2 linked regions of the Homo sapiens genome follow. The protein of the gene in region 1 interacts with the protein of each later gene in a pairwise test. Each region holds a gene or a part of one and is shown on either strand. Other genes may lie near its edges.

Region 1 (3,832 bases):
TGAATAATTGCTTTGTATAAAACCTTCATTGAAATATAACAAATTCAGAAAAGTGCACAAGTCATAAGCATACTATTGGATGGATTCTACATATTAAGTGTTTAGTTGTCTAACTACTTTTAAACTAGTTATGAAAAAAATACGAAAAAGTGTTTAATTCAGTGATGCATGCACATTGGGTTTTCTGAGCCTAGATAACACTCATGGCTGGTTTCTATCTCTGTTTAGAGGCTGGTTTATCTGCTGATCCGTATGTTTACAACTGGACAGCATGGTCAGAGGACAGTGACGGGGAAAATGGCACCGGCCAAAGCCATCATAACGTCTTCCCTGATGGGAAACCTTTTCCTCACCACCCCGGATGGAGAAGATGGAATTTCATCTACGTCTTCCACACACTTGGTTGGCTTTTACAAACCCCTAAGCTTCTTCTTTACCTTTCCTTAAAATTTCAACCTTCTCTTTTCTTACTCTATAATTGAGAATGATAACACAGAGAGTTAATAACAGTCACCCTGCTAACTTTCCTTAGCATGAGTGAACAGTGAGAGATAAAAATGAAATCTTGGTTAACCTTGCCAAATCTCCAGGACACCGAAGAGTTAAAAAGAGAGAAAAACAAAAAGATTAAGCTCTTTTTCAAAAAAACAAAACCACTTAATTTTTTTCTACCTAAAACCATAACAAGAAAAAATGCTAACACTTATTTATTTGAATGGCACATGGAGACCGGGCATGTGGCTCACACTTGTAATCCCAGCACCTTGGAAGGCGGAGGCGGGTGGATCACCTGAAGTCAGGAGTTCAAGACCAGCCTGGCCAACATGGTGAAGTCCCGTCCCTACTAAAAATACAAAAATTAGCCAGGTGTGGTGGTGCGCACCTGTAATCCCAGCTACTCAGGAGGCTGAGGCAGGAGAATCACTTGAATCCGGGAGGTGGAGGTTGCAGTGAGAGGAGATTGAGCCATTGCACTCCAGCCTGGGCAACAGAGTGAGACTCCATCTCGAAAAACAAACAAACAAACAAAAAACAGAATGGCACATTGATGAGCATTCATTGATTGATTCTTTAGTTTTTTTATGTTCTCTAAAGAATTTTTAAGATTTAAAGAAGCATGTGCTATTTATTTGTAGGAAATCCTCAGAAAAGGTACAAATAAAAAATAAAAATTATCCATAATTAATACCAGAGATTATAATTGTTAATTATTATGGTGTTTTCTTTGCTAGTATTTAAGATCATTATTAAGATCACATACACATTTTTGCTTACTATCATTAGCATTTGATGATATGATTTTTTTAATTTTTATACATTGTTTTAATGGCTGCACGATATTTCATTGTGTACAAATAAAATAACTACTGTTCCGCTTTGACCTAGCCCATTCTGTCTTTTTTTAAATTACAAATGGTATTCATTTTGTTGTATTATTGGGGAAATGATTACTTTTAGAAGGAGCAAATTGAGCTTATTATTAATTAGGCTGCTAAATTCTTAGTTTAAAATGTCACTAGGTGCCACCTGGCACTGAGTATTTGAAAATTGCTACCAATCAAGCAGCCTCCAGATTACTAAATATTTCATCTTTCATCACAGATTAGAGAGAGCTCCTCTTCCTTCAATTAACTTATTTACAAATCAGGACAAAATATTAACAATACATACCCATTGAACAGAGTATAAGCTATGTCAAATATTATGCTCATCTATATAAATCAATTGCCTTAAAGCTAACTTATTTTTCACTGCCATTACGACCCCATTAGCCAACTCACCAAACATTTCTTTGACTTGTCACTCTCATGACAGAATTCTGACATTTTGCATGGAGTCACTTATGTTCACTAACACTCGCCGACTCTTTAGCCTAGTAAACATTCCAATAACTTAACCAGATCAAATGTCTGTATTTAAAATCAACTTTCAGCCTAGAACTTGCTCTGTTTGTCTAACAAGACTGCCTTGAATTTCTGTCTTCCACTGAGGTCTCAGAGTTAACTGATATTCTCCCTCAACTAAGTATGGTCTCACCTCTCAGAGCTGAAACTAACATTTTCCTCACGAATAACCCCTGAGAGACATCTCTTCCCCTTATAACTTCTGATGGAACTACCCCTGCATCTCAACGTGAAGGAGGATTCCAAACCACACATCCCTGGAGAGACCAGTGTGTTTTTCTCACACGTTTGACGGTGTGATACACGGGGTCTTGAAACAACCCGGTCTCAAAAGCATGCAACCTAAGATACCCAGTCAGTGACAGGTCTAAACCAGGCCCCCTGGCAGGATTAGAAAAGTTCTTGATTTGGGAATGATAGTAAGAGGAGTTACAGAGTTTTAAAATTTGTTTAAATGTCCTTGAGCCCTGAAGGAGAGGAATTACTTCCACCTGTTAGCTAGCAGCAGGGAGGGTTGGACAAAGAAAAGGAATGACTCAGGGGTGTCCTAGGAAAGTGCCTGTGGAACCACCCCATTCTGTTTTATGTCTGCCATCCTCTATTTCATCACTTACGGGATTTTTATTTTTATTTTTTTGAGACAGAGTCTCGCTCTGTCACCAGGCTGGAGTGCAGTGGTGTGATCTCAGCTCACTGGAATCCCCGCTCCGGGTTTAACCAATTCGTCTGCCTCAGCCTCCCGAGTAGCTTGGATTACAGGCTCGTACCACCACACCTAGCTAATTTTTTGTATTTTAGTAGAGATGGAGTTTCACCATGTTGGCCAGGATGGTCTCCATCTCCTGACCTCGTGATCCGCCTGCCTCGGCCTCCCAAAATGCTGGGATTACAGGCATGAGCTACCGCGCCCAGCCACTTGCTGTATTTTTATATACAAATACTATTAGGAGATGGAGGATTCCAGTCCCCTTTTAAAAATCCACTTAATAATATAGCGGAAATAGTAACAAAAATAAGGTAGGTTATTGGATAAATAATTTTTTTAACTCTTCTGGACACCTCATCATTATATTAAATGTATTTTCTATGGGGAAAACATGTATTTCAAGTGCCAAATTACTTAGCACAAACAGCATTTATTTGTAAACTAAGGGCTAACTGTTTTATGCCACTAAACAGCTTTTTAAATTTTAACCAACTGTATACAATTACATGTATACAACTGTGGGTTTGTTTTATAAGATTTTACATTAAAATGAGCACCATCTCCCTTTCTGAAGCAGCACCACAGGCCCATCCTATTTTCCCTCCTCAGAGCAATCTATAAATGGTGGTAGCTAGTCTTTAAGGAACAGCTTCCTATAATGATGATATAATGCAGCCAATAACTAAAAATTTCCATCCTCCCAAAGGTCAGTATTTCCAGAAATTGGGACGATGTTCAGTGAGAGTTTCTGTGAACACAGCCAATGTGACACTTGGGCCTCAACTCATGGAAGTGACTGTCTACAGAAGACATGGACGGGCATATGTTCCCATCGCACAAGTGAAAGATGTGTACGTGGTAACAGGTGAGTGGTGTGAACTCTAACTGAGGATGAGGCACTTCATTCTGTTGACGTCAATGGGTTAAAAAAGAGGTAAGGCCAAGTGTTCGGGGTTAGGTTACAATGCATCTGGCCCACCTAAGCTTGTGTATTTAATTAGTTGTAGTTCATCTGTTTTCCAGAATAGCTTAGGGAAACCCCAGAAAACTTGCATGTGAAAAGGAAAATAATGCTAAATTATCCCTCATTTTAATATTTCAACCTAAAAGCATCGTCGAAGCCCTCCACTTACAATCAAGCAATCATGCATTCTTTATTTCTTTGGGGGATGTATCTTTTAGATCAGATTCCTGTGTTTGTGACTATGTTCCAGAAGAACGA
Region 2 (3,832 bases), on another chromosome or scaffold:
CATGATCCAGTCATCTCCCACCAGGCCCCTCCTCTGACACGTGGGGATTACAGTTCGAAATGAGGTTCTGGTGGGGACACAGGGCTAAACTATGGCAGTATATAGTTCTGCTTAGGATTTTTCACAGGTGAATACTGTAAGTACTGTTGTTTTCTAGAGCATGAATTCCTTGAGGGTGGGAATATTTTCTTCATCTTTTTATTGCCAGTATTTAGCTTGATGCCCATTTCCAGTGAGTGTGATATAGCACTTGTTCAATAGACGTTAATTGAGCCAATGAGTGAAAAGCCTTAGGGCTGTGCTATGTATGGTTATGATAGAGCTCTACTCTTTGTGTCACTCAAATATTAAATACTGTCATACAATGAACACTTGTGATTTCTATTTACATTTTAGAATTGTATTTTAAGCATTCTCATGTATACACTATAGTTTCTTCCACTTATGTTTCAGGAGGGCCAAACATGTGGGCTATTACCTCTGAAGAACGTACTAAGCATGACAGGCAGTTTGATAACCTCAAACCTTCAGGAGGTTACATAACAGGTTTGTATTTATAATTAGTTTTATTAGTGAATTATGGTCCTTATGTGATATCTAAGAATTAGTTTTAATTTGACTGCCATCAAATTTGTGTTAATAAACGATAAAATTCATATCAATCAGAATTCTAGAAATTAAAGAAATGCTAACTTTATTTTTCCTGGAACTGTCTTAATTTGTTGTTTTAAATTTGGGATATGGAAGATTTTTCCTGAATCCTAAATGATAGTCAAGAATTTCTGTGTAATTGTCTGGTTTCACATTTTAACATTATATCTAGAAAGTTTTCAGTTTATTTCTTAGATTCATTTCATGGAAAATCTAGACTTTTTTTTTCTGGAATCTGTTTTCCTAATGCTAGCCCTCTGTCTTTGAGGCTACACCAAGCACTGATTGTTGATGCTAGCCCTTGTTTTGCAGAAAGACCACCAGAGCCAAAATGGGATTAATTTAGGTGTGCCTTTGAAATTTTTTTCTATTAATTAAACTTTTTTCTGTGCCAAAGTAGCTTAGTGCTTTACATACAATAATAGTAACTATGAGAACAATGATATTTATTGAATTTTTACTATATACCAGATGCTATGCTAAGTGCATTATTTTATTTAACCTTTACAACAACCCTGTAAAGTAGGCACTGTTGTTGTCTATATTTACAAATAGTGAAACTGAGACTAAGAGACGTTATGTAACTGCCTAAGGTTACAAAGATGGTTAGTGTTAATCTGGGCTTTGAAACCATTTGGGCTGATTTTGGAATCCATCTACTTAACCATGTTATTTGTACTGCTATGATAGTAATTACCTTACCTGGTATCAGGATTTGATTACCCTGCTTACAGGTTAATAACTTTGTCCATTACGGGTGGAAGACCCAAGATTCCTGAGTCAGAGACAAAGAACCTTATGACTAACAGCATAACTAGCAAAATGAGCATTGGCATCTATCTTTCTGTTTCCTTTAGTGTTCCCTAAGTCCCACAGAGACAATGCAGAGAGCCCAGGAGAATAGTACACATGCTATGATTGTGTTACAGGAGAGGAACACTGAATTTGGGGAACCCACCCTTTTGTAGCAAGCAGTAAAGCAAGTTTGTCCCTTGTCTCAGTGGGAAACGTTACCGGATTCGTTAAGATTGCTCATTACAAACCCAATTCTGAGAAGTGACCCAGGCAGAGAGCAATTAGGGTCTTACATTATTGGTATACAGAGCAAGACACATAGGAGTGTGAAGAAACTCATGGAGGACTCTCTCTCCTAACACCTGGTACTTTTTATATTGAAACTCTTTTAGGGAATAGTGTTTTTAAATATAAATTTTACTAAGTGGAAGTATTTTTAAGGAAGACCCCAATTGTGGAAAAACTGAGATGAATCATCTTTCATCACTGATTAATATACAATAGAAGTGCAGATGTGACTTTTGTTTTAAAATATCTGTCTTATTAAAGTTATGTAAATAATTTTTATGTGTTTCTATTTCACTTATTCTTTAATGATTGGTATTAAAATTATAATAAATCATTAACATATACCCATTATTATTCAGAAGCATTGGAATAATTTCATTTACTAATGTGCTGCTTGGGTTTTGTTTTTATTACCTCCAGGTGATCAAGCACGTAATTTTTTCCTACAATCAGGTCTGCCGGCCCCTGTTTTAGCTGAAATATGGTAAAGTGTTTTGTAGATGAACCTAATTTTCTGATAGTATTTTGTTTTTTTGTAATATAGTGTTAACATAAAATTGTTTTTAGTTGCATTCTATTGGTTATTAAGAATATTTCTGCCAGCACTTTGGGAGTCTGAGGTAGGAGGATTGCTTGAGGCCAGGCTGGGCAACATAGTGAGAACCCTGTCTCTACAGAAAATTAAAAAAAAAATTAGCTGGGTGTGGTGGCCACACCTCTAGTCCCAGCTACTCAGGGAGGCCAAGATGGAAGGATTGCTTGAGCCCAGGAATTCAGTGCTGCAGTGAACTATGATTGTGTCACTGCACCCTAGCCTGGATGACAGAATGAGACTCTCTTTAGAAAAAAAAAAAAAAAAAAGGTATTTCTTCAGTTTTTTGGAAAATAAATTTTATTGAGCAAATTATTGAAAATAATTCAGGTTTAGTTCTCTAGGACAAATTTCTAATTTCATTAGAATTTTCTAAGGAAAGATATATACATTATCATTGAGAAAAATTTCCTTATAATTTGGCAGAATCTCAAAATCCTCTTTCTGTTATTTTGTAGTTTCATTTATTTCATAATCTATAAACCCCAAATTAGTCCTCGCTTCCCCTGCTCCTTCTTTAAAGAAACTATTCTCTATAATATCTGTTTTTTTAAAAACGTTTACAATAAGTAACAACCCCTGTCCCATCTTTCCACTTGGAATATTCTCATGCCTGGTAGAGTACGAGGCACATAGCAAGTATTCAGTAAATATTTGGACAGATGAATAAATTAAATTTAGAAGTATTATAATCTTGAATTTTTTTCTACCTAAACTGGTGGAATTCAGCCCAAAGGTCTCTAGATTCTGTTTTGACAGGCAGTGTTTTATTAGTTATTATCTCTGGTCAGTATTTCTTAAAGTGTAGGTTTTATCTTTTTGTTATTATATATTTTACATGTTAGATATTTTAAATTTAGTGATGATGTACACGTGAATGCCATATCATCATTTTTACTTTGTCAATCCCCAAAATAACGTTAGTTTTCCCACCACCACACCACATAGCAATCTACCTACCTCATGCTCCTTTTAGGGCTTTATCAGACCTAAACAAGGATGGGAAGATGGATCAGCAAGAGTTCTCCATAGCTATGAAACTCATCAAACTGAAGCTTCAAGGCCAACAGTTGCCTGTGGTTCTCCCTCCTATTATGAAGCAACCCCCTATGTTTTCTCCATTAATTTCTGCTCGTTTTGGTAAGTATGTATTAATTTAAATACCTGTATTTGCTACTTAAACTTTATCCCTAGGCATATTTGAGTATTAGAAAAGGATTTGTTAGCACAAAATGACAGTCCCCAGATTCCAAGTTAATTTTCATGTTAGAGATAATAAATATTAAATTCACTGTCACAGGTAGGGGATCCATGTGTTCTGGTTTTCTAGGGACAGTTCTGATTTATGCCTTTTGTCCTGGCATCTGGTCCAGTTAGTGTCTCCTTTTACAACTCCTAGTTGCGTGATGAATTATATGGTCTCCCTAGGTATAGCCAATCCCAAATACTATTCTTAGTTTCCTCTCTCTCTATATATATGTGAGTAATACAGAAAAAATTTTGAGC

Evidence for each region.
Region 2: the proteins of GPNMB (region 1) and ITSN2 interact in a two-hybrid assay, tested with the Homo sapiens proteins (one large-scale study listed by BioGRID).

Annotation. Positions count from the first base shown.
Region 1 is NC_000007.14:23,256,664-23,260,495, forward strand, and holds part of GPNMB (transmembrane glycoprotein NMB isoform b precursor), read left to right. Parts: intron 1-228; coding exon 229-402; intron 403-3,316; coding exon 3,317-3,475; intron 3,476-3,792; coding exon 3,793-3,832. UniProt on the Homo sapiens protein: Could be a melanogenic enzyme.
Region 2 is NC_000002.12:24,311,846-24,315,677, reverse strand, and holds part of ITSN2 (intersectin-2), read left to right. Parts: intron 1-453; coding exon 454-546; intron 547-2,154; coding exon 2,155-2,218; intron 2,219-3,302; coding exon 3,303-3,466; intron 3,467-3,832.